Linked DNA regions of Homo sapiens. The protein of the gene in region 1 interacts with the protein of each later gene in a biochemical or structural test. Each region holds a gene or a part of one and is shown in the gene's direction. Other genes may lie near its edges.

The links.
Region 2: the proteins of GRIP2 (region 1) and FMNL3 interact in a test that uses a peptide from one of them, tested with the Homo sapiens proteins (one large-scale study listed by IntAct).
Region 3: the proteins of GRIP2 (region 1) and DUSP5 interact in a test that uses a peptide from one of them, tested with the Homo sapiens proteins (one large-scale study listed by IntAct).
Region 4: the proteins of GRIP2 (region 1) and CTNNA2 interact in a test that uses a peptide from one of them, tested with the Homo sapiens proteins (one large-scale study listed by IntAct).
Region 5: the proteins of GRIP2 (region 1) and CD46 interact in a test that uses a peptide from one of them, tested with the Homo sapiens proteins (one large-scale study listed by IntAct).
Region 6: the proteins of GRIP2 (region 1) and CIB2 interact in a test that uses a peptide from one of them, tested with the Homo sapiens proteins (one large-scale study listed by IntAct).
Region 7: the proteins of GRIP2 (region 1) and SDC4 interact in a test that uses a peptide from one of them, tested with the Homo sapiens proteins (one large-scale study listed by IntAct).

What each region holds. Positions count from the first base shown.
Region 1 is NC_000003.12:14,512,843-14,516,342, reverse strand, and holds part of GRIP2 (glutamate receptor-interacting protein 2), read left to right. Parts: intron 1-1,864; coding exon 1,865-2,051; intron 2,052-2,532; coding exon 2,533-2,678; intron 2,679-3,485; coding exon 3,486-3,500.
Region 2 is NC_000012.12:49,704,606-49,708,741, reverse strand, and holds the start of FMNL3 (formin-like protein 3), read left to right. Parts: upstream 1-1,336; 5' UTR 1,337-1,561; coding exon 1,562-1,687; intron 1,688-2,213; exon of another isoform or gene 2,214-2,592; coding exon of another isoform or gene 2,593-2,634; intron 2,635-2,720; exon of another isoform or gene 2,721-2,874; coding exon of another isoform or gene 2,875-3,057; intron 3,058-4,136. UniProt on the Homo sapiens protein: Plays a role in the regulation of cell morphology and cytoskeletal organization. Required in the control of cell shape and migration. Required for developmental angiogenesis.
Region 3 is NC_000010.11:110,507,907-110,512,033, forward strand, and holds the end of DUSP5 (dual specificity protein phosphatase 5), read left to right. Parts: intron 1-2,113; coding exon 2,114-2,520; 3' UTR 2,521-3,627; downstream 3,628-4,127. UniProt on the Homo sapiens protein: Dual specificity protein phosphatase; active with phosphotyrosine, phosphoserine and phosphothreonine residues. The highest relative activity is toward ERK1.
Region 4 is NC_000002.12:79,876,551-79,880,050, forward strand, and holds part of CTNNA2 (catenin alpha-2), read left to right. Parts: intron 1-3,500. UniProt on the Homo sapiens protein: May function as a linker between cadherin adhesion receptors and the cytoskeleton to regulate cell-cell adhesion and differentiation in the nervous system. Required for proper regulation of cortical neuronal migration and neurite growth.
Region 5 is NC_000001.11:207,758,554-207,762,053, forward strand, and holds part of CD46 (membrane cofactor protein isoform 3 precursor), read left to right. Parts: intron 1-1,085; coding exon 1,086-1,171; intron 1,172-2,695; coding exon 2,696-2,893; intron 2,894-3,500. UniProt on the Homo sapiens protein: Acts as a cofactor for complement factor I, a serine protease which protects autologous cells against complement-mediated injury by cleaving C3b and C4b deposited on host tissue.
Region 6 is NC_000015.10:78,104,106-78,107,445, reverse strand, and holds the end of CIB2 (calcium and integrin-binding family member 2), read left to right. Parts: intron 1-1,511; coding exon 1,512-1,707; coding exon of another isoform or gene 1,708-1,798; exon of another isoform or gene 1,799-2,107; intron 2,108-2,113; coding exon 2,114-2,135; 3' UTR 2,136-2,840; downstream 2,841-3,340. UniProt on the Homo sapiens protein: Calcium- and integrin-binding protein that plays a role in intracellular calcium homeostasis. Acts as an auxiliary subunit of the sensory mechanoelectrical transduction (MET) channel in hair cells.
Region 7 is NC_000020.11:45,328,107-45,331,424, reverse strand, and holds part of SDC4 (syndecan-4 precursor), read left to right. Parts: intron 1-860; coding exon 861-1,059; intron 1,060-3,318. UniProt on the Homo sapiens protein: Cell surface proteoglycan which regulates exosome biogenesis in concert with SDCBP and PDCD6IP.

The sequences.
Region 1 (3,500 bases):
CAAACTGGGCCATTTGAGATAGAACCAGGTGAAAGAAGAGAGGAGTACAGGTCACCTGGTGTCTGAAAAAAGCTAAATATGGTTCTACACTCCCTGGCAGCCAAAGGGAAATGGGAAACAGATTTCAGTCAGATGAGAGAGAAAATATATCTCTACTAACCACCTTTCCTGGCCACCAAAGTGGGGAATATGTAGATGAAAAGATGCAGAAATGCTGTTCGTAGGTGGGGGATGTGGAGACTGGAGGCTCTTGCGACTCCTCTGCCTGTCTCCTTCCTGGGATGTGTAACTAAGAAAGTACTATCATTATTGCTGTTGATAGTAATTTATTAATTAATTATAATTAATTAATTATGGGGCATAGTACTGAATGTACATACTATGGGGACATAGTAGTGAAAAGAAACAAATAGGCCAGGCATGGTGGCTCACGCCTGTAATCCCCACACTTTGGGAGGCCGAGGTGGGCAGATCACTTGAGGCCAGGAGTTCGAGACCAGCCTGACCAACATGGCGAAACTCCATCTCTACCAAAAATACAACAAATTAGCCTTGTATGGTGGCACACGCCTGTAATCCTAGCTACTCTGGAGGTGGGAAAATCGCTTGAACCCGGGAGGCGGAGGTTGCAGTGAGCCGAGGTGGCGCTTCTGCACTCCACCCTGGGCGACACAGTGAGACTTTGTCTCAAAATAAATAAATAAATACATATAAAAACACAATATACCTAAAAACATAACATATTACACATTTTGTAATGTATAATATACAATATAATTTAATAATATAATATGACACAATAATATAATTAGTAATGAAATACCAAATAAATTTTGTTTGATAAATAATAAATGACTTTCAGGATTCATATTAATGATGCAAATATATTTCATATATGGAATGTAAAACAATATTTATTAAATAACCTTATGTATCAAATAGTTAAACATAGAGTTGCCATATCACCCAGCAATTCCACTCCTAGGTATATGCCCAAGAGAAGTGAAAACATGTGTCATCTCCACCTAAAAACTTATACACAAATGTTCATAGTAGCATTATTCACTGTAGCCAAATAGTGGAAGGAACGCAGTATCCACCAATGGATGAATAGATAAACAAAATGTGGTGTATCCATACAATGGAATATTATTCAGCCACAAAAAGGAATGCAATTCTGACACCTGCAAAATGTGGATGAACTTGAAAACATTATGCCAAGTGAAAGCAGCCTGTCACAAAGGCCACATGGTGCATGATTCTGTTTATATAAAGTGCCCAGAACAGGCAAATGCAGAGATGAAAGTAGATTCGCGGTTGCCTAGGGCTGAGGGACATAGGAAGATCTTTGGGGATGGCTGAAGGGAACAGGGTTTCTTCTGGAGGTGATGAAATGTTCTCAAATGCATCGTGGTGATGTTTGCATAATTGTGAATACACTAAAAACCACTGAATTGTACACATTAAATAGGTGACTACTGTGGTATGTAAATTATATCTCAATAAACCTCTTACCGAAAAGCAGAGTGACATAATATAGTAGATACTACAGTAGATCACAGCACAATAATACAATAAAATGACACTGCCCCCCAGAACCTGCTTTACAGCATGACAGTCAATCCCAGCCACTGTCTTCCCTAGTCCTTGCCACACCCCACGAGGTGGGAATCAACGATCCCATTGTTCAGATGAGGAAGCCAAGGCTCAGAGTGAGCTGTGATCTGTCTGGTCCCAGACTGAGTCAGGGCTCCCACTTCCTTGCACTCTGGCTCCAGTGCCTAGGGCCCCGGGATGGGCAGGCCCTGGCAGGAAGACCTCCGTGGGGCGGCTCACCTGAATGCTGGGCCCACCTGTCCTACAGTGTCGCTAGCCTCCAGCACGGTGGGGCCGGGCGGGCAGATTGTGCACACGGAGACCACGGAGGTCGTGCTCTGTGGAGACCCCCTCAGCGGCTTTGGCCTCCAGCTCCAGGGCGGCATCTTCGCCACCGAGACCCTGTCCTCCCCACCCCTCGTGTGCTTCATCGAGCCTGACAGTCCGGCTGAGAGGTGAGCCTCCTGCCCCCTCCCTACTGAGCCTGCCACTCTCTGAGAGAAACTGAGTCACAGCACCAAGCCCTAGCTTCACAAGCGCATCTCACTTAACCATTGCATCAGCCCCAGCACCAGCCCCATTTTACAGATGAGGAAACCGAGGCTCAGAGAAGCTGACTCACTTGCCCAGGATTACACAGCTCACCCATGGAATCCCAGGGCTTGAACCCCTGTCTGCCTGAAGGCAGAGTCCTCTGTATACACAACTTGTAAGGCCCATGCCATCATCCCCATTGGACAGACAGGGAAACTGAGGTCCAGCAAGGTCCAGCCCTTAGCCAGATTCCTGAGGATACACAGGTGGGCCAGGGCAGAGCTGAGAGTCACCCCAGACCAGGAGGTGTGACCCAGGTTCAGTCCTGCCCTGCATGGCGTTCTTGTCTCCCAATGGACCTGTCACGGAGCCTCTTCTCTCTGCCGGGCCCCCTGGGTTCAGGTGTGGGCTGCTGCAGGTGGGGGACCGTGTCCTGTCCATCAATGGCATTGCCACCGAGGACGGGACTATGGAGGAAGCCAACCAGCTCCTGCGGGACGCCGCACTGGCCCACAAGGTCGTGCTGGAGGTGGAGTTCGATGTGGCGGGTGAGTGAGTGGCCCAAGCTTCCTCCTCATATTTCAGGGCCCTGCACCCCTCCTCTCTTTATCCTGCCTCGCCTGTGCAAACGCTCCACCCCATCCCCCTCTGTGCCCAGTGCCCTTCTCCCAGGGGCTTTGCAGCTTATAGTGGGAAGGGAAGCCTTGGCACGGGAGGGAGAAGTTTCCACACCAGGAGACTTTTGCAGAGGGGCAGGACCAAGTGGGGATGGGGTTGGGGAGCTGAAAATACTCCAAGCTCCTTCTCAGCATGGGTTAGGCAAAGAACCTCGAACAACAGTTTGGGTCAGAATTCTGCTTCTGTGACCTCAACACAGTGTGGCTTTGGACAGGACACTCCCTCCACTGTTTCCCCATCCGTAAATAGTTGATAACGATCTTTTCACTATAGGGGCGGTACTTGGGTTAGGTGAGGCATATGCCCAAGAGAAATGAAAACATGAAAATACCCAGCCACGGCCTGGCACATAGTAGGTGCTCAGGAAATATGTGCTAGATTCACACTGGGTTGTTAGGCTGTGGGGAGCTCCCTTCCCGCCCGCCACACTAGCCGACAGCCAAGAGGCCTGGTTCCAGCCCCGACTCTGGTCTGACTAGAGCAGGTCAGTTGTTTTGAGCAAATCTGTCAGCTCACTCTGCCTCAGTTTCCTCCTCTGTTGAGAGGAAGCAGGGGGATGAGATTAGAACTGTGACTTTCGGGGTCACTCCCAGCACAGCCAGAATGGGCATGGGGCTGGGGTTCGCTGAGGCTCCTCCTCTGGGTCCTCACGTCGGTTTATGTCCATCTACCCCCAGAGTCCGTCATCCCAA
Region 2 (4,136 bases), on another chromosome or scaffold:
TGTCTACCTTTCCTTCTACACAGATTGTGAATTCCAAGAGGACACAATGTATATCCTGTTTGTTCGCAGATGTACCTTCAATGCCCAGAATAGTATCTGGCATAGAATAAACTTTCTAAAATAAATATTTGTTGAATAAATGAATTAAAAATCTAGGTGATAACTTCAGGCATGGTTAGATCCAGGTTCTTGGCATGTCATTAGAATTTTGTCCTGTCTCATAGCTTTTCTCTCCTCTGCGCTGGCTTCATTCTCAAGCAGGCTTGATGTGTTACAGGTGATGATAAGACGGCCACCAGCGGCTGCAGGTTTACATTCTAATAATTTTGCAGCCTAAATGGAGAGAGAGTGAGTGCCTCTTTCCTGATTGTTTCAGAGAAAGCCTTGGATATATCATATTGTCTGGGCTTGGGTCAAGTGACAATCCCTAAAACAGTGTCCATGGGTAGAGGAGGAAAATGTTGTGACTGACTGGGCCTGGGTCATGCGGTCCTTTGGAACTGGGGATAAAATTCAGCTCCATTTAGACTGAGAAGAGGGGAGAGGTGGTTTCCTAAAAGAAAAGGGGGTGCTCTCACTGGAAGAAGATGGCGGCTAGACAACAAATTTCCACCGCAAATGTCAACGACCCAGCCGCCGACTGAGCCCAGAACAGCGTTCTTCTCCCGCCTCTCCATTTTCACACGCAGCCAGATGGTTAAGCTTCTCTCCTCCCAAACGTTTTTTCCCCTGCCTCTGTCGGGTAAGGGCTTCCTCATCCCTCAATGCCTGGTCCAACTATGATCTCCCTCACCCCGACTCTTAACAGGTACTATCTCTCTCCCTCTTCTGAGTATCCTGCTTGTTTCTACTTCTCTTGTAGTTAGTTTTGTACGCCATGCCTTGTATAATATTTTACTTACTTGTATACATCATGAGTTCCTTTTGAAAAAGGGTACGGTCCATTCCCGGTGTGTCCACGCCAGCCCCTCACGCCCTCTGGGAACCGCGGTGATTCGATGCCGGCTGAGGCCGCCAGGGAGCGCTCGGCGCCCGGCACGAGGCCGTCAAGGGCGGGAGGCGCTGTGATTGGCAGACGCGGCCGTCAATCGGGCGCAGGTGGGGCGGGCCGGGCCGCCTGTGAGGCCTCTGGGCGGGAGGCGGGGCCTGCATGAATGGGGCGCGCGTCGCGCGGGCTGCAGTCGGCGCTCGCGGGGGAAGCCCGAGTCTCGGCCGGGTGTGGGTGGGAGGAAGCGAGGTTGGCGGGGGAAGGGAAAGAGCGCGGGGGGCGGGGAGGGGCAGCGCCCGGGCGGCGCGCCGAGCGCGGCGAGGCGGCGGGTGTGAGCAAGAGCCGGCCGCCTCCGTCCGCCTTGCTTCGGTGCGGCTGTCCGCTACGCTGCCTCCGCCCTCGCCGCGCGCCCCCGCCAGCGGGACTCCAGGGAACCCCCGGCGCCCTCGACGGGGCCGAGGAGTCGGGACTCGGGGAGCCGGCGCTGAGGGAGGAGCCTGGTCGGAGCCGCGGAGCCGAAAGCTCCGGAGCGTGGAGGTGGGGGGCCGAGGCCCCTGAGGGGGCCCCGCCGCGATGGGCAACCTGGAGAGCGCCGAGGGGGTCCCGGGAGAGCCCCCCTCTGTCCCGTTGTTGCTGCCGCCCGGCAAGATGCCGATGCCTGAGCCCTGTGAGCTGGAGGAAAGGTTCGCCCTGGTGCTGGTGAGAGCTGAGCCCAGCCCCTTCCCCCGCGTACCGCCCCTCAGGTCCCGACGCCCGGGCTGGGACTTTGTGCTGGGCCCCCGTCCCGCCCACCCTTTCAGTCGGGGTCCCGAACGGATCCCGGCCTCCAGTGTCTTCCCAGGAACCTCTGAGCAGCCGCTGGCCGGCCCGGACAGCCCCGTCGGGGATCTCGGGACCGACGCCTCCACCGCTGGACCCTTAGGAGAAGTCCCCAGTTCGGGACCGTCCTAGGAACCAGGCTTCTCCCTCCTTCTTCCTCCCCCTTCTGCTGCCCTTTTCCCGTTTCCCCGCTTCTTCGCCAGGCTCCCCGTCCCTAGCATTCTCAGCCCGGAGCCTCTCGCGGGTGGGGGGAATTCAGAAGCGCGGCCGGCTCGCTCCTCAGCAGGCTTCCCTGAGTGGGGACACCGCCTCTCCTGCGAACATGGAGGCTTCCCAGGGAGTGGGTCCCACTCCCAGCCCAGACCAGATGTTTGGGGGGAGAGGGGGATGGGGAGGCGGCTGGCAGCTCCTGAAGGGGGTGGAATAAAGAGTATGCCATTCTGCTTATTTTCAGAACGGCCTGCAGGCATCCTGCTAAGTTAGAGTGGATTTGCCTGAAAGGCTGAACATGTGGATAAACCATTTCACTGGGGTATTTCTCCAAGTGAAACAATACACAAACCATCCCGCCTCCTCCCCCCCTTTTCACGTTAAGCCATAGTGACTGGTTTGTGTTGTTTAGCCTGTGCTTTTTAGTCTTTCTGTGGGTTTCAAACGGTCTGTATAAATGGGTTTTTAGAGCTGACTTTGGGATTCTTCTTTGGTGTGGGAATTGGACATTGATGTCAGTGGCTCTATGAAGCGAGAGGTTCTGAGCTGGTATCACCGGGAAGGAGCCAGAAAATATGTTTGCGCTGAAAATGAAGTTTTGCAGAGCGAAAACATTGGTAAACCGGGGTTAATCTTTGAGAAATTTGGGGAAATAGTTCTCACTTCCCCAAAGAGTTTTCTAAGAAGCAGTAATAATTCTGGCGTTATTGTTGGTATGGCCGACTCTGCCTTTGCCTCTGCCCATCAGGAGGGATAAGTTGTGGACTTAGCAGCCTTATTGGATTTCATCTGCCTTGGAATAAGGAGATTAGATCTGTTGGCAACAGTGGAGCTGTCTAGAGATCTTGGCCTCTCCGATGGTAGAGAATCTGACATCAGCCCACTGGCACCAGAGCTGGCTCAAAGAGGGTCCACAGTGTTCCAAGGGGAAGTGGTGTCGCTGGCACCTCTCTGCCCGCCAGCTCTGCGAAGGGCCAAAGGGATGTGGGCCATACATCCTGTGGCCCTCTGCATTTCCCCCAGCCTCCTCGGGGGATCGGGTGAGTCAGTGATTACCAATGTGCTGTGACCATCTCACAGGCTGAGGAGGAGAGACTGGGACTTAGTGGCCTTGAGAACAAGAGCCCAACTGTTGGGGAAAAGAGTGGGAGGGGATCTGCACTCTGGTGGGGGTGTGAAAATCCCCAGCAAGCTGACACAAGTTAGCTATAGAAACTGGGGAGAAAGGGATGGGGTGAGGTGGATTGGGTGGGAGGCTGCCTTAGGTGGGAGCTGCCAGGCCATTTTTTGTGAGAGCTCAGAACCAGAATCCATCATGTTCTCATTGGCCCTTGGTTGACCATTTCGTTTAGTTAGCAAACTAATGGCTTAATATTCACAAAATGCACGTGATGTCCTAGTTAACCAGGACACCAGAGCACCAGGAGAACCCAGGTCAAATGGGGGACTGGACCACCCACTTGCATGCCTTCCTTTCTGTATAAAATTTTGATTTGTTTCCTCATGCCTTTTGTTTTGGTCTTGTTTCTGTGTGCCTGAGCTGCTGCTGATGAAGGGTTGGAACAGGGCAGGCCAGAGCTAGTTAGTTGTCTCAGGAGACGGGATTTCACCTCAGTTTTCCAATACAGGGAAATCATCCCTTCTTGGGGATTTGAGTTCTTCTCTGGGGGCTCTTAAGTGTCCCTGTGTCCACTGTTCTGAAAGGTACCCTTTCTACCATGCTTTGGGAACAGTACTGACTGAGTCAGGTGTTTGACCCAGGTACAGGCTTAGGGGTATTTCCTGAACAGTCAGGAGAAGCATAGTGTAGTAGAAAAATCAAGGACTCTGGCTTAGCAAGTATCTTAACTTCTCTGAGCCTAGACTTCTTCCTCATCTGTAAAATGGAGGTAATCCTGTTCTGGTGAGATTGTGAGAATTAGGTGAGCCCCTGTATATAAGGTGCTTGGCACCCAGTAAGTACTCAATATAGATTATAGATTAGCTTCTTTTTTTTTTTTTTTTTTTTTTTTTTGAGATGGAGTTTGGCTCTGTCATCCAGGCTGGAGTGCGGCAGCACGATCTCAGCTCACTGCAAACTCAGCCTCCCGGGTTCAAGCAGTTCTCCTGCTTCAGCCTC
Region 3 (4,127 bases), on another chromosome or scaffold:
TTTTCTGTTTCAGATTTGCAAGTACCAGTCTCTAACCTTGTGATCATGCCCCGTTTTCCAGCTCCCATCTTCCTCTTTAACATACGTAGTTGTTGAAACTGACGCGTGATTTTCCTGTCTCTTGTTCCAAGGGATGTTGGAGGAGGAAAGGCAGGTGTTAGCACAGCAATAATTACTTAGTGCAGATAGCAATTAAAGGTCCCCCTTGAGCCACATAGTGGCCCTCTGTTCACCACACAATTTCTGCTCCCCAGGAAACCCTGACGAGAAACTCATCAGAGGCAAAAGGCCGAGCCTGTCCTGCTTGTCCCCTGAGCCTCTGGGCTGAAATGATTCCTTTGGAGCTTGAAAGGCAGCCAAATGATGGGTTCAGGGTGGGAAACCCTTGACTTGTTCTCCCTGTCCCTGGGAATGCCTTGCCCTTCTCAGCCTGTTATTTAATTACCTGGGTAGCTACTTCATGAGGTCATGAAACACGCCCCCATCCAGTTCTCAGAACCCTCCCTCCCCATCCTGTGTGTGTATTGTGTCTGTGTACGCACAATCCACAAACCCACAGCAGTTTGAAAGCACAGGATGCTTTTTCTCCGATTGCTTGCCCTGCTAATGGAAGGAGAGACTGGGTCTCCCCAGTGAGCCATGTGCTGAATATATGCTGACCCCTTCCAAGGGAAGAGGGCCATGTGGAAGGCAGGCTCCGAGGTGTCGAGTGGGCTCCAGAGGCAATACACTCTGGACCCTTTGCATTCTTGGATGTGGCACTAGGCCAGTTAAAAGCTAAACTTTGAAGGAGGCCAACAGAGGAGCGAAGGGAGATAGGAGCCCGACTCTGTAATTCTAGGGACTTGGGGGTCTCCCCTTTGAACTAATTTAAAGAGACTGTTTTGTTGTTTCTTTTGAGTCAGACTGAATTGGAGGACACCCCTATTGAACTGCTTTGGGGTATGCTGTGGGGTTTTTGTTCAGATGGGGAAACTCTAGGATTCCTCCCTGATGCCTCAGAAATTTTATCTTTTAGATCTTGCAGATTGATTTGCATACTTTGACCTTGGGGCAGGGAAGTGGAGGGTGGTAAGGGGAATGACTTTTTCTTTTGGCCCTTCAAAATCGTAAATGTTTTTGCGTATTGTAGCCTGCGTAGTGCCAGCTACATCTAACTTCCTGTGATGTAATTGTTTCCTCACTAGCAAGAGAGGGAATTGGAAAGACTGTATTTTTTGTGGATTTGATGTGTACGTATCTTTAACCTTTCACCCCTTCCCATTTTTAATAGTTGTAGCTGGTTTTCTGGGGGCAGGGGGCTGGGAGGTAGAACAGGAAGGGAGGCATCCTCCCCTTTTTGTCATATTGAGCTAAAGAATGCTAACTGATGGTGGTAGCTTTATAGCAGCGACTCCCATTGTTGAGCAAGATGGAATTTGTGAAAGCCATTTATATCCTCCGTCTAGTAGGCGTCACTTAGCCAGGGCTATAATTAGTGGCCATGCGCTATTTATTGTGTGTTTGGTGGTGAGAACCCTGGGAGCTGAGCCAAGCATCCTGCCCTGGCACAGCCAGACAGGGTGCCCGGAGAGACCGGAAGGCCTCTACCAGGATCGGGGTTAGGTTGTTACCCTTAGAATCAGACCTGGAGAGACAAGAGTTGCTTCTCCAAGTCAGTCTTTGAGCCTGGGATGCTCTCCTTAGAAAAATGTATGTGCCCAATAAAAATGTGCACAATTTCAAGGATTTTCCAATGCCCTCTTGGAACCATCAGTGGAACCTAGGTTAAGATGGCATCCCCAGGAAGGGACTGCTCCAGGTCCATCGCCTCCAGAGGCAGAATCTGCAAGTATCTTGGGAACTGTAAAGCTTCTGTGTGCTTATGTCTCTTGTGACAATAGCTGCTGTAAACTGTAAAGGTCCTACTTGGGGATAGTCTTTGCTGGGACCCCAAAAGCTCTATCCTCACCAGTGGGGATTAAAGACTGGCAGAAGTGTAGTGTAGGGCCGTGGCTCTTAGGCAGGCACAACAGTTTCATATCTAGGTTACTCCAGTGTTTGATTCTTGTGTTTTGCCATTGCCCTTAGATTCTAATCCCAACTCACTCCCACCATCTTTTCTTCCTTCCAGACTGTGTCAGGGAAAAGGGAGGCAAGGTCCTGGTCCACTGTGAGGCTGGGATCTCCCGTTCACCCACCATCTGCATGGCTTACCTTATGAAGACCAAGCAGTTCCGCCTGAAGGAGGCCTTCGATTACATCAAGCAGAGGAGGAGCATGGTCTCGCCCAACTTTGGCTTCATGGGCCAGCTCCTGCAGTACGAATCTGAGATCCTGCCCTCCACGCCCAACCCCCAGCCTCCCTCCTGCCAAGGGGAGGCAGCAGGCTCTTCACTGATAGGCCATTTGCAGACACTGAGCCCTGACATGCAGGGTGCCTACTGCACATTCCCTGCCTCGGTGCTGGCACCGGTGCCTACCCACTCAACAGTCTCAGAGCTCAGCAGAAGCCCTGTGGCAACGGCCACATCCTGCTAAAACTGGGATGGAGGAATCGGCCCAGCCCCAAGAGCAACTGTGATTTTTGTTTTTAAGACTCATGGACATTTCATACCTGTGCAATACTGAAGACCTCATTCTGTCATGCTGCCCCAGTGAGATAGTGAGTGGTCACCAGGCTTGCAAATGAACTTCAGACGGACCTCAGGGTAGGTTCTCGGGACTGAAGGAAGGCCAAGCCATTACGGGAGCACAGCATGTGCTGACTACTGTACTTCCAGACCCCTGCCCTCTTGGGACTGCCCAGTCCTTGCACCTCAGAGTTCGCCTTTTCATTTCAAGCATAAGGCAATAAATACCTGCAGCAACGTGGGAGAAAGAAGTTGCTGGACCAGGAGAAAAGGCAGTTATGAAGCCAATTCATTTTGAAGGAAGCACAATTTCCACCTTATTTTTTGAACTTTGGCAGTTTCAATGTCTGTCTCTGTTGCTTCGGGGCATAAGCTGATCACCGTCTAGTTGGGAAAGTAACCCTACAGGGTTTGTAGGGACATGATCAGCATCCTGATTTGAACCCTGAAATGTTGTGTAGACACCCTCTTGGGTCCAATGAGGTAGTTGGTTGAAGTAGCAAGATGTTGGCTTTTCTGGATTTTTTTTGCCATGGGTTCTTCACTGACCTTGGACTTTGGCATGATTCTTAGTCATACTTGAACTTGTCTCATTCCACCTCTTCTCAGAGCAACTCTTCCTTTGGGAAAAGAGTTCTTCAGATCATAGACCAAAAAAGTCATACCTTCGAGGTGGTAGCAGTAGATTCCAGGAGGAGAAGGGTACTTGCTAGGTATCCTGGGTCAGTGGCGGTGCAAACTGGTTTCCTCAGCTGCCTGTCCTTCTGTGTGCTTATGTCTCTTGTGACAATTGTTTTCCTCCCTGCCCCTGGAGGTTGTCTTCAAGCTGTGGACTTCTGGGATTTGCAGATTTTGCAACGTGGTACTACTTTTTTTTTCTTTTTGTCTGTTAGTTATTTCTCCAGGGGAAAAGGCAATAATTTTCTAAGACCCGTGTGAATGTGAAGAAAAGCAGTATGTTACTGGTTGTTGTTGTTGTTCTTGTTTTTTATAGTGTAAAATAAAAATAGTAAAAGGAGAAAAGCACTTCTTCATGTTGTTGGTGAATTGGGATAAGGTAGGAATACCCTTGGGTGGGGACCCAGCCTGCTTCATTGGGATTTATTTGTAAATGAACAACAGGGTGATGGTGGTGGAGGTGCAGCTATAGGCATGACGATACAGAATGTTGCTTTCCAACTGAGGGGTTTCCCTAAGCTAACCGGCAAGAGAATTCCTTAGTGCAGGCCTCATAGGGAGGTGGTGAGAGTATCTGCCCACTCAGGGCCCTTCACTGCCATCGCACTAGGCAAAGAGCTCTACTTGAACCTCAGATTCCTCACCTGTGAAGAGTGAGCTGAGTTAGATGATCCCAAGAGTCCCTTAAAGCATAAGGCCCTTGGTTCCAGTAAGCCTGAGTGCCAAGCTTGTGGCCAGCTACCTCCCTCCAGTGCCTGGCATATGGCAGACTCAGAAAAGGCTGGGTAAGTGGCCAAGGGATGGAGAAGTGAATGAGGTGAAAGTTTGCCCTGCCAG
Region 4 (3,500 bases), on another chromosome or scaffold:
GTGAAAATATGAAGCACAGAGAGAAGGCCTGTGAACAGTCCAGGAACTTCAGCTGCTGCCACCTTCTGTCCAAGAGTGTGACAACTGCTGCTTCCCCATGCTGCCTTTTGTTTCCAGACGATTTTCATTAAAAGCACCTTTTATCCCCAATTAATGTAACAACCGATGCGTCAGTGCAACAGTGCAAAAGGCTTTCATTCATAAAAATCAAACTTGAGGTCATGTGGGGAAAATCTATTAGCAAAGTATGTCAACATGTTGAATGTTCAAGGTTTTTTTTTTGTTGTTGTTGTTTTTCCTGAAGTGATATCTCCTCATGCTGGACAAATAAGGCTTTGGAAATTTAACACATGAATATAACCATCAAACATGTTTTTTATAAAACATGATATATTTGAAACAGTTGGAAAAATTAAAATATAAAGTATAATATGGTAAATAAGTCACTAACTATATTTTATTAACTTTAAACTTCTATATTAACTAATTATATTACTTATAATATTAACTCAGTATATTATATATGAATGAAAAAATTATATTTTATATTAGCTAAGTATATTAATGAGGTAATATATTCTTATTAAATGTATACTGTTTCTCAAGCTATGAGAATTACATAAAGCGTTATCTAATGGTCAACATTTTACTTCTTGGAGGTCAACAAAAATCAAAATGTGGAGGCTGTCTGAATTGCAGTTTTGAAACAATAATTCCATTTGATGTGGTTCCCTAACAATTGTCATTTAACAAATGCAATTTAATTTCAGCACTTTCTCAAAAGTAGTAATGCTAGTAAATTAGTATTGAATTTACAGACTGTAATGTGATTCACCTGCTGTAGATTTTCCATCACTTCTGACATCAGCAAACCTAGACAGTAGTTAATGATACTTGAAATTTTCTCATTAAAATAATATACCGTTTCTCTTTATTTTATGACTAAATTATAAATTTCTGTTCCATAGTTGTATGATGAATACTGTTTTTTTAAAAATTTCTTAGGCATGCTAACTTGAAATTGATTTTGAATTCATGGACATCTGTCATGAGTCCTAAATGCTATTCTCAGATATTAAACAAATTGATATTTCATTGGGTGAAAAACTCACTCAAACTTCCTGTGGTTTACTTTTCTGGCAAAATCTCTTACTGATACTTGGTATAATACCTTTCTCATATAGTGAAAATTTAAATAAGTTTAACGTCTTTGAAATGCTGAAGTAAAAGGAACCATAAAAATGCAAAATATATTTTCATAGACAGCACAGCTAGTTTGCCCTAAAATTTATTTTTTAAAAATTTTACTTTAAGTTCCAGGATACACGTGCAAAATGTGCAGGTTTGTTATCTAGGTTTACATGTGCCATGGTGATTTGCTGCACCTATTGACCCATCCACTAAGTTCCCTTCCCTTGCCCCCACCCCGCAACAGTCCCTGGTGTGTGTTGTTCCCCTCCCTGTGTCCATGTGTTCTCATTGTTCAACTCCCACTTAGGAATGAGAACATGTGGTGTTTGGTGTTCTGTTCCTGTGTTAGTTTGCTGAGGATGATGGCTTCCAGCTTCATCCACGTCCCTGCAAAGGACATGATATTATTCCTTCTTATGGCTGCATAGTATTCCATGGTGTATATGTAGCACATTTTCTTTATCCAGTCTATCATTGGTGGGCATTTGGGTTGGTTCCATAACTTTGCCATTGTAAATAGTGCTGCAGTAAACATACATGTGGATGTGGCTTTACGGTAGAAAGACTTATATTCCTTTGTGTATATACCCAATAATGGGATTGCTGGGTCTAATGGTATTTCTGGTTCTAGATCTGTAAGGAATTGCCATACTGTCTTCCACAATAGCTGAACTAATTTACATTCCCACCAACAGTGTAAAAGCGTACCTGTTTCTCCACAGCCTTGCTAGCACCAATTGCATCTATAGCATCTATCTATTCTTGACTTTTTAATAATTGCCATTCTGACTGGCCTGAGATGGTATCTCATTGTGGTTTTGATTTGCATTTGTCTAATGATGAGTGATGTTGAGCTTTTTTTCATGTTTGTTGGCCATGTAAACATCTTCTTTTGAGAAGTGTCTGTTCATATCCTTTCTCCACTTTTGGATGGGGTTGTTTGTTTTTGTAAATTTAAGTTCCTTGTAAATTCTGAATATTAGACTTTTGTCAGATGAGTCGATTGTAAAAATTTTCTCCCATTCCGTAGATTGCCTGTTCACTCTGATGATTCTTTTGCTGTGCAGAAGCTCTTTAGTTTGGTTAGATACCATTTGTCAATTTTGGCTTTTGTTGCAATTGCTTTTGGTGTTTTCATCATGAAGTCTTTGCCCATGCCTATTTCCTGAATGGTATTGCCTAGGTTTTCTTCTAGGGTTTTTATGGTTTTGGGTTTTACATTTAAGTCTTTAATACATCTTGAGTTAGTTTTTGCATAAGGTGTAAGGAAGGGGTCCAGTTTTAGTTTTCTGCCTATGACTAGCCAGTTTTCCAGCACTATTTATTTAATAGGAGATTATTTCCCCATTGCTTGTTTTTGTCAGATTTGTCAAAGATCAGATGGTTGTAGATGTGTGGTGTTATTTCTGAGGTCTCTCTTCTGTTCCGTTGGTCTGTCTGTTTTGGGACCAGTACCATGCTGTTTTGGTTACTGTAGCCTTGTAGTTTAGTTTGAAGTCAGGTAGCATGATGCCTCTAGCTTTGTTCTTTTTGCTTAGGATTGTCTTGGCTATACGGGGTCTTCTTTAATTCCATATGAAATTTAAAGTAGTTTCTTTTTCTAATTCTGTGAAGAATGTCAATGGTAGTTTGATGGAAGTAGCATTTATTCTATAAATTACTCTGGGCAGTATGGCCATTTTCACAATGCTGATTCTTCCTATCCATGAGGTTGGAATGTTTTTCCATTTTTTTGTGTCCTCTCTTAATTCCTTGAGCAGTGGTTTGTAGTTCTCCTTGAAGAGGTCCTTCACATCCTTGTTAGCTGTATTCCTAGGTATTTTATTATCTTTGTAGCTATTGTGAATGGGAGTTCATTCATGATTTGGCTCTCTGCTTGTCTGTTATTGATGTAAAGGAATGCTTGTGATTTTTGCACATTGATTTTGTATCCTGAGACTTTGCTGAAGTTGCTTATCAGTTTAGGGAGTTTCTGGGCTGACATGATGGGGTTTTCTTGATATACAATCATGTTGTCTGCAAACAGAGAAAATTTGACTTCCTATCTTCCTATTTGAATATGCTTTATTTCTTTATCTTACCTGATTGCCCTGTCCAGAATTTCTAATACTATATTGAACAGGAGTGGTGAGAGAGGGCAGTTTTGTTATGTATTGGTTTCCAAAGGGAATGCTTCTTGCTTTTGCCCATTCAATATGATATTGGTTGTGGGTTTGTCATGAATAACTCTTGTTATTTTGAGGTATGTTCCATCAATACTTAGTTTATTGAGAGTTTTTAATGTGAAGCGATGTTGAATTTTATCAAAG
Region 5 (3,500 bases), on another chromosome or scaffold:
CTCTTAATGACCTAGTCATTTCTTAAAGGCCCCACCACCTCTCAATGCTGTTACACTGGCAATTAAATTTCAATATGAGTTTTGGTAGAGACAAACCAGATTCAAACAATAGCAGTAACACACCATAATATAGAAAAAGTAAGTGAGTCTTGGAGGAAAAATCAGCTGTGACTATGTAAGGCAACTGACAGTTTTTAAAATTTGGTCAAGTAGAAATATTGGAATATTCAGTTGACACATACTGCTTGCTAGGCACACCGAGGGATACCAAAACTTTAAGACAGTGACCTTCCTAAAAGAAGTTCTAACCTTATTGAGAAATAATATATACTGAGAGCAATAAAAGCAAAATACTAAATGAGAAATACCAAATAAGTAGAATTATTCATGATAATTACTCTAAGAGTCCAGAAGGAGGAGAGATTCCTGTGAATTTAAATCAGGGAAGATTTCATTGAGTATAGGGGTATACTTAATGAAAGTATTCTTATACTCAGTGAGCTATTCCTAGAAATACACTCTGTTCTAAATAATATTAATAGAAGCTAAAACTCATGTAGCACTATCTATGTGCCAAATGCTAACTTATCTAATCCCCTAAACAACCCCATGTACTGTTATCCCCTTTTAATCAATTAGGAAGCTGAGTGAAGGAACTTTAAGTGACTTACCCAAGCTCAAGAAACTAGATAAGTTGAGAAGCAGGGACTTGAATCTATCCATTCCAGCTCTAGGGCCTGTTCTCTCTACACAGTCCTTGTCCTTACTGTGCAAAGTGGTGTGAGAAAAGGCACAGAAATGAATGTGTAATGTGATTGCAGGAGGCAGCAAAGAGGCTGGGTGGAAAGGCACAGCAGATTTATTTAGACATCTTTGCTCTTGGCCAATATATATTCAAATGGGGAAACTCTATTTGATTAAATTGCAGATTTATTTAGCACTTTCGTTATATAGTATGTTGTTTAAGAAACCACCCCCTCAAACTACTGTAGTGTAGAAAAGAAACCATATAAAAAATTCCTTCATTATTATGTGTGTCTTATTAATTGCTATACAAAACAGTAACCCTTTCTTTTCTCATTTAGTTATTACTTAATTGGTGAAGAAATTCTATATTGTGAACTTAAAGGATCAGTAGCAATTTGGAGCGGTAAGCCCCCAATATGTGAAAGTAAGTAAATTCTTTTTTTTTAAATTTAGACCAGTAGTCCTCAAAGATTTTTGCCTCCTTTACACCCTTTACACTTTAAGATTAACAAAGATCCCAAAGAGGTTTCTTTTATGTGGGTTATATCTATTGGTATTTATCATATTGGAATTCAAACGGAGAGGTTTTTAAATAATTATTGATTCTTTTTGGTTTTGTTTGTTTTTCCTAAGACACGGTCTCAGGCTATTTCCCAGGCTGGGGTGCAGTGGCACAATCTCAGCTCATTGCAGCCTCAGCCTCTCCAGTAGCTGGGGCTTCAGGCATGTGCCACTATGCCTGGCTTTTTGTAATTTTTGAAGAGACGGGGTTTTGCCATGATGCCCAGGCTGGTCTTGAAATCCCATGCTCAAGCAGTCTGCCCCCGTGGGCCTCCCAAAGTGCTGGGATTACAAATGTGAGCCACCCCACCTGGCCTGATTAATTTGTAAGAATAAATGCAATACAAATTAACATATGTAACATAATTTTTATGAAAAATAATAATTTTCCAAATCAAAATAAAATTAGTGAGAATAGTGGCATTGTTCACATTTTTTGCATATCTCTTCAACATCTGGCTTAAAGCAAGATTGTATTTGGCCTGTTGTGTTATCACACAATATGTAGCCTTTGGAAAAATATCACTATATTCTTATTAGGATCAGAGTGAAAAAAGACAATAATATTTTGGTGGTATTGTGAATCACCAATTTAGAAAATGGATATATTTATAAATTGCAAAGGATTTCTTAACTAGCACCGAGTTAAGCATATTTTCTCATTAATTGTCAGCATTTCTTGTGATGACTAGAACAGAACTTAGCATGGCCTTCCAAATAAATACAGGCGTATTAGGCCGTTTTCGTATTGCTCTAAAGAAATACCTGAGACTGGGTAATTTATAAAGAAAAGAAGTTTAATTGGCTCATGTTTCTACAAGCTGTACAGGAAGCATGGTGCTGGCATCTGCTGGGGGTTTGGGTAGGCCTCGGGAAACTTAACAACCATTGGGAAAGACAGAAGGAGAGCAAGGTGTCTCACATGGCAGGAGCAGGAGGAGCAAGGTGGGGAGGACGGGAGGTGTTGCGCACTTTTAAATAACCAGATCTCCCAAGCACTCAGTATCACGAGAACAGCACCAAGGGGACGGTGCTAAACCATTCATGAGAAATCCACCCCCATGATTCAGACCCCTCCCACCAGGCCCCACCTCCAACATTGTGGACTACAATTTGACATGCGATTTGGTGGGGACACAGATCCAAACCATATCAATAGGTATTTACACTTTAAGAAAATGAGATTTGTTCTGAAAGTTAGTTACTACATTAATGGTTTGAATTTGGGATGATATATTTGCTCATAGAAACCTTCTTTTAAATCCATATTGAATTCACAAACAGCTTGTAGAAACCCTATATTGACAAATTTATTGAAGACACAGAAATTTTACTAATGCTGTCTTAATCTTTTACATTTCCTTTCCTCTTTTTCTTCATTTTTAAGAGGTTTTGTGTACACCACCTCCAAAAATAAAAAATGGAAAACACACCTTTAGTGAAGTAGAAGTATTTGAGTATCTTGATGCAGTAACTTATAGTTGTGATCCTGCACCTGGACCAGATCCATTTTCACTTATTGGAGAGAGCACGATTTATTGTGGTGACAATTCAGTGTGGAGTCGTGCTGCTCCAGAGTGTAAAGGTAGTGTTTCAATTTATTTCCTTCTTCATTTGTAAATACTATGGAAACATTTTGTAAATAGTTTCATCTACAGATAAACAAAGCAGGTGTATGTGCTTCCTCCTCCTGTATAATTGGTTTCTAATTTATTTTAATTCAGGTCAATTCAAGTCAAAAAATAGTTCTAGCTAGAGTTCCCTATTTCTCACCCCTACATGTTCTTGGCATTTCATTTTATACAGTGTGAACTACTGTGTACCTGCATGAGTTAGAAGTTTTTGTTTGAAAGAACCAAAAAAAAAAAATACACACTGGCTTAAAGAAAGTTTCATCTTGTATTACAAGAAATCTAAGAGTTCTGGCTATGGTAGTGGTAAACTGTGACAGACTAATCGTCTCACAAATAAAAATGATAAACTCTGGATAAAAAAAATTTTTTTTTTAAAGACCAAATGTTTAAGGCACTCTGGAGTGACCAAAAGTATGAAGACCATGTAGGGGACTTGCCCATTTAAAGAAAGAAATCACTGAATAACAGTGATTTAAAAGTATATACTCCCCAAGTACACATGAAACATTCTCCAAAGTAGACCATATTCTAGACAATAAGACAACTTTTAACAAACTT
Region 6 (3,340 bases), on another chromosome or scaffold:
AGCAAATCTTTCCAGAGATTTGCTATGTCCCATGCCATGGGCAGAGATGAATACTCCCTGACGCATACCCTAGAGTTGTGCCCAGGCCTCTGCAGAGATAGACAGGGCAGAGTCACCCCAAGAGCTTGGGCTCTAGGGTCCAACAATGACCGGGATGTGACCTCAGGCAGGTACCTCTCCTTTTCACCTCCCTGTTTCTTTTTTTATTTTTGAGATAGAGTCTCGCTCTGTCAACGAGGCTGGAGTGCAGTGGTGCGATCTCAGCTCACTGCAAGCTCCGCCTCCTGGGTTCACGCCATTCTCCTGCTTCAGCCTCCTGAGTAGCTGGGACTACAGGCGTCCACCACCACGCCCGGCTAATTTTTTTTTTTTTGTATTTTTAGTAGAGACGGGGTTTCACCGTGTTAGCCAGGATGGTCTCAATCTCCTGGCCTCGTGATCCACCCACCTCGGACTCGCAAAGTGCTGGGATTACAGGCGTGAACCACCGCGCCTGGCCACCTCTCTGTTTCTTCATGTGTATAGTGGAGATTCAATTGTGCCTGCCTCATAGTTTTGTTTTGAAAATTAAATGAGAAAGAGCATATAATGCTCACATGATGGGTCTTTGTCACTACCATTAATGTCAGAGTTTGCCAATGGGCAACAGAAGCTCATTTGCGGGGAAGAGGACCCTTATCGCTAGAAAGCCCCGCCACTGGGAGGTGATGTGTGAGCCAAAATTTGAAGGATGACCAGGAGTTTGCTGGGAAGGGACCCCAGGCAGAAGAAACAGCACATGCGCAGATCTGGTAGTTGGGCTCAAAATGTAAGAAGAGAGAGTTCACTTTGATGTGGCCAGGCATGGCTCGGTCCTCTGAACCATTTTGCTGTGCTTTGGGGCAGTGGTAGTGCCTTTTGCTGGGTAGAATCAAACCATGTTCCCTGCTCTGTGTGCACAAAGGCCAGGCACAGGCCCCTCTCTAAGGGTCTTTTGATTTTGAGTCTCCTGACCCACCGTGTCTTCTGGTCACACACCACTGAGGCAACGGGGTGCAGTTTAGAAAACATGGGTCTTAGAGTCCCATAGGCCCTAGTCAGAATCCCTGCTCCATCTCCGAGTGGCTCTCCCACCTTGATTCAATCGCATGGCCTTTTTGGGCCTTAGTTTCCTTAGCTCTAGAAGTCTAAAGGGAACACTGGGTCCACTGTGGGCTAAGGCCAGGAAGGGCTATCTGGCCTAAGCCTGAAGTTCTCAGGAAACCTCAGATTTGGACTTTTGACCTGCTTCAGGATGTGGTTTAGTCATTGTGGGGTTGTTGTTGGTGGTGGATGTGGGTGTTTAAGCGATGCCTGGTGGGTAAGCCCTCTTGGGGGCAGGGATCCAGTATCCCAAGAGTGTGCATGGAGATGCTCTGGGGACATCAGAAGCTGGTGGAGGTAGTGGGGCCAGCTAGGAGGAAGAGCTATAGTGTAGGGGTCCCTGGGTGCACGCAGCCTGGACTTGAACATGTCCAACCCCTGCCCTACAGACTTCAACACTGACAACTTCATCTGCAAGGAGGACCTGGAGCTGACGCTGGCCCGGCTCACTAAGTCAGAGCTGGATGAGGAGGAGGTGGTGCTTGTGTGCGACAAGGTCATTGAGGAGGCTGACTTGGACGGTGACGGCAAGCTGGGCTTTGCTGACTTCGAGGACATGATTGCCAAGGCCCCTGACTTCCTCAGGTGCTGCCACTACAGGGGCCGGGCTTGGGCAGGGCAGAGCAGGGCAGGCCGGGATGTTGGGGCTGAGGCCCCTATCACTCGCTATTTGTGAGCAGTGGTGTGCGGCCAGGAAGCAGGAGGTCACGTTCAAGCCACCCTTGCCCTAGACGTGTGACTGGCCTTTGTCCCCTGCAGGGGGAAGGTTGAAGACCTGGGGGCCCCTTCAGTGATAAGTGGGGGCAGAACTCCCTGGGCACCGCTGTTCCTCCGTCTTCCCCCAGTGTTGATTACCTGCATCCACTATGCAGGGTTCCCTAATGAGGCACTGTCCAGCATGGGGCTGGGGCCTGCTGTGCTTTTCCCTGAGGAGCCTTTACCTGCCCGACCCAGGGCCTCTCACCCTCTCTTGCCCTTTCTCTCTTTCTAGCACTTTCCACATCCGGATCTGAGGACACTGCCGAGGCTGTAGGGGCCTAGAAGTCCACCATCCTGCCCTGCAGTCACATGGGTGTGGCCTCCAAGCTCCCCAGGAAAGCAGTGGCAGCCTCTGGGGTTTACACCACAAATATATCCTGTGGCCCTTTCAGCAAAAAAAAAACCTTAACCAGGAAGGGGGCCTGTGAAGGTTAGGACCCTTCCCACAGCCCCGCTGTGGTCCAGCCCCGGGACCCATGGCCTCTCTCCAGGCCCTCCGCACCCCGCCCCATGCCCCAGTCCTTTCCTACTCCAGAAATGCTCCCCACCCCCCCAAAGAGGGAAAAGCAGATAACCCAACAGGAGGTGGTGGGGTCTGACGTGTCCAAGTGCTGGCAGACACCCTGGTCACCCAGGACAGAGCGGAAAAAAAAAAAAGAGGTCAGGGTTTTAACGAGCTATGCAATCTTTTTCCAAAACCCAAGGTTGGGCTGCTTCCCACCCCTGCCTGTTCCCCTTCTCCCGGCCTCCTTCACAATGTGAAGCTGTGGGTGCAGTGGGCCCAAGGGCTCTTGCTCCTGTCTCTGCCTCTGGGTCATGAGTACCACCCTGCCTGCCTCCCCAACACCGTGGAATCCTCACTGGTGTGCTGTCCACAGATTTGTGAACTCCTGGTAGTAAAACACTTTTGCATCCCTTTGCTCTCCATGTATGCTAATGTTAGGAAATGTTTGAGGGTACCTTTGCTTCTGATCCTTGAAATCCCACCATTGGTGTCTCACCTCTCGGCATTAGGCAGTGCCTCCTGCTTTAGGCACTAACTTTGATTTCAGTGCGTGTGCCATCGGGAGGAAAACACATTCATGCCCCGAACCTTCCGTGAATTCCCTGACAGTATCTCTGGTTAACATTTGGGAGTGCTAACCACTCAGGCACAGGGACAGTTGCTTCAGTCTCAATCCTTAAACCCCCAAGGAGGGAGGGACTCTTACAGGCCTATATTTCAGGAAAAGCTGCATAGCCAAGTGGTCACTAAGAGTAGATTTCCCACAAATGCAACCTGAGCCCGCTCTGCCCAGGGTCAGGGCAGGGAGGAGGGGCACGTATGGTGTTCTCTCTGGAGATGATCAGTCCTGTTTTCTGCATCCCAGGCCTGGGGGTTGTTGGGAGTGGGGTAGCAAGCCAGCTGTCCACCCTTATAGAGAAGGGGACATGTGGATAGGAAGGGAAGTGACACACA
Region 7 (3,318 bases), on another chromosome or scaffold:
TTTCCCCCTCCCTTTTGTAAGAAAACCCTTAATCCTAAGGGTTGCAGAGGGACAAAGATCCATCTTCTATAACTTCTTCATGCTGAATAGGGTGATGATATTCCTGCTTAACTATTAGGGCCTCTTGTATCCATGGTAGAGAGGGGTTCAGTCAGAAAGGGCCAGTATGGTGAGGGCCATTCATAACTCTTAGTTCTGACAAAAGGTGATATCCAAAGTCCTCCAATCAGTGCTGCAGTCCATTTCCTTTGATTCGGGAGTCTCCTCCGTCTCATCCCTTCTGTGGTTCTCCAGAAAGATGTTACCAGAAAGGGGTCCCGATCCAGACCCCAAGGGAGAGGGTTCTTGGATCTTGCACAAGGTAGAATTCAGGGTGAGTCCATAGAGTAAAGTGAAAGCAAGTTTATTAAGACAGTAAAGGAATAAAAGAATGGCTACTTCATAGGCAGAGGAGCTGCAGCAAGCATCTTTTACACGTAGTCTCTGAAGAGCTCCTTACAATAGAGTTTCCAGGGCAAAACTGCCACCTTAAAGGGCAAGCGATGTCTAAGGTTTTGCCAAATTGCTTCCAGAGTGGTTGCTCTAGAATAACCAGTGGCCAGCAGTGCAGGAGAGCACCTGCTTCCCTGTTCCCTTGGGTGCATTCATTTTTCATTTGGGACAGATATACTAAAAAAGTTGGGGATAAGGATTTTGGCAGCATAATTGTGGAGACAGTGTTGCCAATTCCTGCTCCAGGACCATATGGTTCAGCTGAATATGGCAGAACCAGATTCTCTGCCTGGCTGAATGTCCCTGTCCCCTGCCCTGAGTCTCTTCCAAAATACGCTGAGTGTCTCTTCTCCTTTCCGCCCATCCAGGTGCCTCTAGATAACCATATCCCTGAGAGGGCAGGGTCTGGGAGCCAAGTCCCCACCGAACCCAAGAAACTAGAGGAGAATGAGGTTATCCCCAAGAGAATCTCACCCGTTGAAGAGAGTGAGGATGTGTCCAACAAGGTGTCAATGTCCAGCACTGTGCAGGGCAGCAACATCTTTGAGAGAACGGAGGTCCTGGCAGGTAAGTCCCCATGCTGCTTATAAGATGCCTTGAAGGTGGAATGGGGCTCAGCGGGGGAGAGCACCTGCAGGCAGGGATGCCTCCAGCCATGAGGCTCCTTGGTGCCCCTTCCTTTTGCCTATTCAGGTTGCCCTAGAACATTGAAAGACTACACCTTCCTTATGGGGTGGCTCTGACTGTGCAGCCTGGTGGAGGGAGAGGAAAAAGCACCTATCAAAGTCTTCTGGAAAATAGGCATTGAGTCATTCTTCTGCCTTAAGTCTTTCTCATTTATTTTGCAAAGGACTTTCACTGTATAAGTTTGGCATCTGGGAGTTAATCATTAAAAGTTAATTTCCCTTGTAAGTCTGGAGGCTCCTTCGAATTGGGTTAGCTTCCCCTCCCCCTACTCTATCACTTGGCAGCCTTGTGACCTTGGCTGAGAAGCTTTCGAACTTGATGAGCCTCAGTTTCCTTATCTGTAAAATGGGTACAGTGATACCTTCTGGGGTTGATATAATGAGTCCATGAAAAATAAAATATGAAATAACTTTGCACACTATAAAGGGCTATTCCGATTTGGCCTCAGTTGAGAGTTCTTTACTGGAATGTGCGGTGAGGAATGCTTTGTCCCAGGTGTTGACAAAAGGGATGGAGGGAACTCCCCAAGGTCATGGCCGAGGGCCAGCCTGGATGAACCGGCCTGGCAAGTGGGCACCCTGGGCCCATGCTGGGTAACTCCTGTCTCCTGGGAATCAACAGAGCCAGCAGCTCCAAGGAGGCTTGAGCTATAGGGACAGAGCCTGGCTTCATCCAGGACAGATGGAAGGTCTCACCTGCCTCTTGTAAAGAGGGTTCCTGGGAGCACAGCCCCTGATGACTGGGCCCACCTCAGCCCTGACCCTGGCTTCCTGGTATCTGAGCCAAAGTTCTTTTTACTTTTCTTTCAGAAGTAAAAAGATTTGCATAAGACTTTGGATTTGCATAAGGTTTTGCTCTAATTAACTAAAGGTGCTATTGCTTCTAAAGAAAAATTTGAAAACCACTGATTAATCTAAGCACCTGCTTCTTATACATGGGGAGACTGAGGCCCAGGCTTTAGGCCACATAGTAAGAAAAGAACTGAAGCCAGGTTATCTCTTTAATCTTCCATTTGAGAATTATACAAGCCTAAGAGCCTCATGTGAAAAGTTATATTGTTAGCTGGTGTGGTGGAATCCCCCATTCCAGAAGCTTTAATCAGCACCCAGGAGCCTTATTAAATGCTTGCTGTATGCTGTATGATTCCTGTGCCCCTGATTGAGTCCGTACAACACAAAACTCAGTCTAAAGAACTTATCCGAAGTCACAAAGCTGGAAGTGGCAGACCTGGCATTTGGACTGAGGACCACAGTCAGCTTCTGAGCCTGTGCTTGAAACTTGACCCTGTGGGGCATCCCAGCGCAGACCCAGGGCCTCGTGGAGGAACTGGGGTCATCAGAGGGAAAGGTGATAGAGACAAGAATGGGGTTGATGCCTGATATTCCATGTGCTTGCTCTGGCACCTCCTGGGGGTACTTTTTTGTTGCTTTTTCATAGGATTTTACCCAAGAAAGAACCTTGCTTGACTCCTCTGTGCCACTCTGTCCCCATTGTGTACATAGATTTGTAGTGTGTGCAGGGATGGAAAATTAATCTTCTTAGCCCGAGTAAGACCGAATTAGGGAACTCAATCTGCCACAGAAGGGATTCTATGAAGCATCCCTGCCCCTAGCAAACAGGAATGAGTCATTCAGGCCACCTGGCAGAGTGGACAGGCCAGACCCACTCACTGTTAGAAGCCCATCTCTGCCCAACACTAGGCAGGTTCTCCTCTCGGAGCCTGAAAGTATCATTTATTAAGCACCTCCTGTTGTGCACACCTGATTCAGGGGGTTCGGGACACAGATATAAACCTTAAACCCTTACAGTTAATGAATCTTGAGAATATGCTATGCACTAGGCATTGTTCTAAGCACTTTGAGTGGATTAATTTATTTAATCCTTAGGACAAATGTATGAGAAAGGTATGGCTCTTCCCATTTTGCGGTAGGGAGATGAAGGAAACTTGCCCCAAATCACACAGCCAGGAAGTAGGAGAGGTAGGAGTGGAAACCAGGCCTTAGCTACTGAGTTCTGTATGTAATTGTAACATAAGAGTTTGGAATTAGTATGTTCTGCATGTGTGCACTTTGAATGTACATACCTGTCTATGAAGTGTAGGCTATATAGGTAAATATGCACACAGGGAGAGCTAGAGAG